Homo sapiens: one gene and its partner. The protein of the gene in region 1 interacts with the protein of each later gene in a pairwise test. Each region holds a gene or a part of one and is shown on either strand. Other genes may lie near its edges.

Region 1 (3,657 bases):
ATCTTCATTGCAGCAAGTATAGGAAGGGGTTTATGCTAAATACTTTTAAAATATCAGAAATTATGAAAATAGCACAGTTTATCACTGACATAAATCGATGATGACAAGGTAATGTAATTTGTAACTGTTAAACAAACTTGCCAAAATCACTCTGACACACTCTGACACTCTAGCATTTATCAATGCTACTCATGCTCAAGTATCCTCTTCTCAGGGCTGTCTTGATGGCCTACATCATATGAAGTATCTCACTGATGGAAATACTTTATCCTTTACAATTAGATCTGACTTTCTGAAATAGCTATATGTCATTAGAGACAAGTTTGGTAATAAGTTGTATGACCAATCTCTACCAACTTTTTACTTTATTGGAAATGTATCATTTTAAAAATGAAGTTCATAGTAGTATCTCAACCTAGCCCTAAAATCAATGTCAAGAGTATTCCCAAAGATGCTTGGAGATATGAAAGCTTAGTTTAAATAAGTAAAGCCTATGAAAGCTTTGAATGGTACTAAAATTATATGTTCTGATATACTTGTTGAGTCATCCTTTAATATTTATTATTTCATAATTTGTTAAACATTCTAGATTTAAACAAAATACAGCATGAAAATCTTTATAATTATAAATAACAATCCACAAATTGAACATGTGTTGAACTTTGAAAGTTCTTTCACCACCGATTAGCTAAAAGGAGCTAGTGGCTTGTTATATTACTTCTTGAATCATGTCTAACAAAAAAAATACTGTGCGGCACTGGGAAAAAAAAAAGAACTATAAAGACATGAAAAGACATGGAGGAAACTTAAGTGGATATTACTAAGTGAAAGAAGCCAATCTCAAAAGGCTACATACTTTATGATTCCAACTATACGACATTTTGAAAAATGCAAAATTGTGGAGATAATAAAATATTAGGCCAGGCACAGTGGCTGAGGCCTTTAATCCCAGCACTTTGGGAAGCTGAAGCTGGAGAGTTGCTTGAGGCCTGGAGTTCAAGACCAGCCTGGGCAACATAGGAAAACCCTGCCTATGCAAAAAATTGTTTTGGCCAGGCACAGTGGCTCATGCCTGTAATCCCAGCACTTTGGTAGGCTGAGGTGGGCAGATCACCTGAAGTCAGGAGTTCAACTGACCAACATGGCATGTTGTCATGTTTGTCATGGCCAACATGGCAAAACCCTGTCTCTAGTAAACATACAAAAATTAGCCGGGCATGGTGGTGGATGCCTGTTAATTCCAGCTACCCGGGAGGCTGAGGCAGGGAGAATTGCTTGAACCCAGGAGGAGGAGGTTGCAGTGAGCCAAGATCGCACCACTGCACTCCAGCCTGGTGACAGAGCCAGACTCCGTTTTGGGGGAAAAAAAAATTTTCTTTTTAAACTAGCTAGGTGTGGTGGTGCATGCCTGTAGTCCCAGCTACTTAGAAGGCTGTGGCAGGAGGATGGACGCTGCAGTGAACCATGACTGTGCCACTGTACTCCAGCCTGGGCAACAGAGCGACATCCTGACGCTAAAGAAAACACAAAAGCAAAAGCAAATTATTGGTTGCCAGGAGTTTCTAGAAGGGAAGGAAGAACAGGCATTAAAGAATTTTTCGAGCAGTGAACCTATTCTGTCTAATGCTACAATGGTATACAGTCATGTGCTGCCTGTTCTGGTCAATGATGAACCACATATACAATAGTGGTCCCATGAGATTATAAAAGAGCTAAAAAATTCCTACTGTCTAGTGACATCATAGCTGCCGTCACACAGAACAACTCATTACTTTGTGGTGATGGTGGTGTAAATAAGCTTACTGCACTGCCAGTCATATATAAAAAAGTATAGCATCTACAATTATGCATGGTACATAATACTTGATAATAATAAATGACTATGTTACTCATTTATGTATTTCCTGTGTTATACCCTTTAGAGTATATCCTTCTACTTACAAAAAAAGTTAACTGTAAAACAGTCTCAGGCAGGTCCTTCAGGAGGTATTCCAGAAGGCACTATTACCATTGGAAATGACAACTCCATGCATGTTACTGCCTCTGAAGACCTTTCAGTGGGATGATGTGGAGGTGGAAGACAGTGATATTGATGATCCTGACCCTGTGCAGGCCTAGGCTAATGTGAGTGTGTGTCTCAGTTTTTAACAAACTTACAAGCGATTTTTAAAAACTAAAAATTTAAAAAATAGGAAAAAAGCTTATAGAATCAGGATATAAAGAAAGAAAATATTTTATACAGCTGTACAATGTTTGTGTTTTAAACTATGTTATTACAAGAGTCAGAAAGTTAAAAAATTAAAGTTACAGGAAGCTAAGGTTAATTTATAATTCGAGAAAGAAAAATTTTTAAATAAATTTAGTGCAGCCCAAGTATAGAGTATTGATAAAGTCTACAGCAGTATACAATAATGTCCTAGGCCTCACATTCACTCACCGCTCACTCACTGACTTACCCAGCGCAACTTCTAGTCCTGGAAGCTCCATTCATGGTAAGTGCCTTATACAGATGTACCATTTTAAATCTTTTACATTGTATTTTTACCATACCTTTTCTGTGTTTAGATACACAAATACTATTGTGTAACAATTGCCTACAGTATTCAGTACAGTAACATGCAGTATTACTGTATCATACAGGTGGGATCATACAGGTTTGTAGCATAGGAACAACAGACTATACCATACTGCCTAGATGTGTAGTAGGCTATGCCATCTACATTTGTGGAAGTACACTCTATAATGTTTGCACGACAAAACTGTCTAATGAGGCATTTCTCAGAACATATCCGTCTTTAAGCAACACATGACTATATACACGTCACTATACATTTGTCAAAATCCACAGAACATATAACACCAACAGTGAACCCTAATGTGATGTAATGTAAATATGTAGACTTCAGGTGATATTAATGAGCCAGATGTACTGCTCTGGTGCAGATGCTGATACTGGGGGAGGTTGTGCATGTGTGAGGACAGAAGGTATACTGTACTTTCTGATCAATTTTGTTGTGAATCTAAAATTGCTCTAAAACACAGCTTATTAATTTAAAATACTTCTCCTTTGTATGTAGTTATGAATTTCTGTTCTTTCATTGCTATTGTTTTTAATCCAAGGAATACTGAAGAATACATATAGAAAGCTCCCTGCAAAGTTAAATTTAATTATGTTATTTGCAGTAAAAATGAAACAAAAGGATGTAACCCAATTTTAAGTACTGTAAACCATTAAATGTAGCTACTTATTTCAAACTTACTTTGAAATGTGACACTACTAAAAAAAGGGGTTGGGGTGCCCCAAGGAGCATGCCAGGGCCTATTGTTTCTGCCATTAACAGAAAGGATGTGGAAAAAACATGCTTGTAGCGTCACTGCTGCCAAATTCTGCCCACCATATTAGGAAACTGATAAGCTCTGGTTCTGTATATCATTATTTATTAAAAGCTTACTTTGCATAAGTAGAGGAAACCACAGGCTCTTGTCAGGATTTGGAATGGAGAGAAAAAGGTCTAGGGACTGTATGATGCTAAAAGCCACAGCCTAGTGGCTACTGCAGAATAGTTTACAAAATATGAATGGTTGGTTCATTGCTGTAATTTAGCTTTGCTGTGGTGTTAAAGGCCAGCAGATGAGAAAATGAATACTACCTTCCTT
Region 2 (3,657 bases), on another chromosome or scaffold:
TAGTAGAGATGGGGTTTCACCATGTTGGCCAGGCTGGCTTACGATTCCTGGCCTCAAGTGATCCACCCATCTCAGCCTCCCAAAGTGCTGGGATTACAGGCGTGAGCCACCATGCCCTGCCCATAGTAAAGTGTTAATTTTTCCTCATTTCTATGTGTTTTCTCCTCAAGGCTAAAAACTCTTAGTTGACTTGTGCTGCATTTCAGATACCAGTAGCTCAGAATCCCCGTAGTCAGTTTTTAGAGGAAGATAGACTCTTTTTTGCCTATGTTATTTGACCCCATAATATTTTCTTATGTTTTCTTATGTTGTGAAAGGATTATACTCCACTATTCTAATTGTTAGGCCCACTGAAGTAAATACACATCTTTCTAGAAAGGTCCTGCTGTGTGCTTCAGAAATTGTTTCTAAAATAGACCTAACAAAATTATTCTAAATTATTTAAATCTTTGGCAAGAGGCTAGGATCTTTGAGTTTTCTTTTTAACTTCTTTGTGATTTGGGACAATTGGTCTTTATTATACCTCAGAAAAAAAATTATGCACTGCTGGTAATAGAATAATGGAGATGATGGAAATTACAGGAGATTTTTCAACTCAAGAAGATTAATGGTTGTATTCTTCTAGATCTGCTTCTCTAAATTTACGTGCAAAAGAAATCACCTGAATAGCTTTTTAAAGATGTAGATTGTGGAGCTCAACTCCAGAGAAAGAAATTACGAGGTATAGGTGGGACTTAAGAATTTGCATTTCTAACAAGTTTCCAGGTGATAGTGATGCTGCAGGTTCGGGGACTGCATTGGAGGAGCACTGCTAAAAACTCTTAAATACTACGAGAAAAGGAGTGCCAAGGCAGATAGAGCACAGTATATATCTTGTATATTATTTATTATGTTTTTTCCCCACAGTTTTCACAGATATTTTTATTAAGGTACTTTAATAATATTCTGATACGTCTAAAATAGTTAAATTCAAATCTCCAAAGAGCCCAAATTTTACTTACTGAAAAGTGGAAGGTTTTTTCATATTTCCCCTAGAAATTGTGACAAGAGCTCAGCTTCTGCCCTAAAACAATAGTACTTTTCCTCAGAGACAGTTGGTGTTATGATTCATCATCTTAGACCCTCAGTAATTTTAATATCAATTTATTATTTCCAGATTTTCTGTTTAAATGCAGACTTCCTGTGCATTAATAGTTAAAAATGTTCTAGATCTTTCCCTTAGTGTGTCATCATCTGTCTTAGAAAACTGGGATTTGAAATGAAACAAGCTGAGTTGGGTGATTTTGAGGTTGAGATTATCCTAATCATGTGGTCTGATAAACATGTTTATGTGCGTAATTGATTCATTCAGTAAATATGTAGTGTGTGCCTATTATGTGCCAGACACCGTACTGGGTGCTTGAGATTCAGCACCAAATTGCCTTTAGGAAACTTACATTCCATGTAGGGGAAGCAGAGAGAGAGATCTATTAGATAATGGTAAGTGCATCGAAAAAAAATTAAGCACAGTAAGAAGTGTTGGAGATAGAGAAGAGATTGCTGGGTTTTAAAAAAAATTTTTTCCCAGCTTTATTAAAGTATAATTGACAAATATTGTATATACTCAAGGTGTACAGCATGATGTGTTGATATACATATACATTTTGAAGTGATTGCCACAAATTAACACATCCGTCACTACACATTTTATGCGTGTATGGTGAAACCACTTAAGATCTACTCTCTTAGCAAATTTCAAGTAAATAATACAGTATTATTAACTAAAGTCACCATGCTATCATTGGATCCCCAAAACATATTCATCTTATACTTTGGCCAGCAAGATTGCTGTTTTGGATAGGATACGCAGGAAAGACCAACCTGATAAGGTGACATTTGGCAAAGACCTGAAGGGAGCAAACCACACAAATGTTTGAGTGAAAAGGAATCCACCCCTAAGAAGCAACTATCCGAGAATAAAGACATTTGTTATACTAATTCAAACCAGAATCTTAACACCTTAGCCTGATAGTTGTAGCAGAACCTATTTCAGATTCTCTTATCTGTTACAGATGTGTTAAATTCAGTTTTTTTTCCCAATATTCTGCCTATGAGACTTTCTTTCCATTCACTTAACTCTGTTTTTCCCTGTAAACTGAAAGCAAGGAAACTATTTCCTAAGGACCCACTGTTTTTTGTTGTTGTCATTGTTGTTTGTTTTTTACAAATGGTTGACTTTGAAGAAATAATACCAGAACAAAAAATTTGTTTTACTAGAATATCTTTATAATGTTATTTGTGATTTCCTCTTACTAGGCTGCTGCAGAGAAGTTGGTGCAAGCCTTAATGGAAAGAAATTCAGAATTACAGGCCCTGCGCCAATATTTAGGAGGGAGAGACTCCCTGATGTCCCAAGCACCCATCTCTAACCAACAAGCTGAAGTTACCCCCACTGGCCGTCTTGGAAAACAGACTGATCAAGTAAGAACTATAGACTTACATAATTCATGCTGATTCCATTTCCTTTTTACATTTGAGGTGTAAGTTTGATAATTTTAATACCAAATTCTGAGAATATTCTCAGTACTGTCATTGTGATCATAGTTCCTGCATCTTCCTAAGTCCCCTGACTTTTGCAATTTTTTAGGGTTCAATGCAGATACCTTCCAGAGATGATAGCACTTCATTGACTGCCAAAGAGGATGTCAGCATACCCAGATCCACATTAGGTAAGTATCAAATTTCATTTCATTAAGGGACTTTGTTTTTCTCTTGTTTTTTCTTCTAGTAATCTCTGTATTATAGGTTTGGCCAAGACTCTTTTCTCTTCCTACCTTAATAGAACAAATAAGTTTGGAATTCCTCTGAAAGGCTGAAGAACTGTCCTTACCTTATGTTGAGTTGAGCTGATTGCTCTGGGTTCACAATTCGGCCCAGAGAAATTCTATCCTTACTCTCCTTTTCAGATAGCTTTGCAGGGATTCAGAAATGCAGGAGGTAATTGTTCCAATCCTGCACAGCAGGGCCATGAGCTGACACCTTTTCCTGGGTATCGTTTCAAGTCTGGGGCCACTCACTGTAACTTGACATCACCTACTAATGTTATATATATATATAATGTTAGCATAGTTTGATAGTTTCTGGCACAATAAGATGTTCTATGATTACCTTTTGCTTTACCTGCCTCAGTCCCAGAATCAGCCATTATCCTAAAGAGCTCCCTGGTTCCTTTTGGTGGGTAATGGCATTCAGAAACTATGATCTGGACACAAGATGTGTTCATTGCTACATGAATGCCTTTTGCTTCTAGGACCTTTTTTTTTTTTGAGACGGAGTCTCGCTCTGTCACCCAGGTGGGAGTGCAGTGGCACGATCTCTCTGCTCACCTCTCGAGTAGCTGGGACTACAGGCGCCAGCCACCACACCCAGCTAATTTTTTTGTATTTTTAGTAGAGACGGGGTTTCACCGTGTTAGCCAGGATGGTCTCAATCTCCTGACCTCGTGATCCGCCCTCCTCGGCCTCCCAAAGTACTGAGATTACAGATGTGAGCCACTGCGCCCAGCCGCTTCTAGGCCCTTTTAAGAGAACAGAACTAGCAATGAATATTTTTAAGTATGTATGTGTGTATTTGTATATATGTGAAGATTTGATACTGATTTCCTTAATTCCAATTTAA

Evidence for each region.
Region 2: the proteins of SDCBP (region 1) and PDE4DIP interact in binary tests that used the Homo sapiens proteins (3 or more experiments, as listed by UniProt).

The regions. Positions count from the first base shown.
Region 1 is NC_000008.11:58,566,761-58,570,417, reverse strand, and holds part of SDCBP (syntenin-1), read right to left. Parts: intron 1-3,657. UniProt on the Homo sapiens protein: Multifunctional adapter protein involved in diverse array of functions including trafficking of transmembrane proteins, neuro and immunomodulation, exosome biogenesis, and tumorigenesis.
Region 2 is NC_000001.11:148,969,885-148,973,541, forward strand, and holds part of PDE4DIP (myomegalin), read left to right. Parts: intron 1-2,295; coding exon 2,296-2,460; intron 2,461-2,626; coding exon 2,627-2,708; intron 2,709-3,657. UniProt on the Homo sapiens protein: Functions as an anchor sequestering components of the cAMP-dependent pathway to Golgi and/or centrosomes.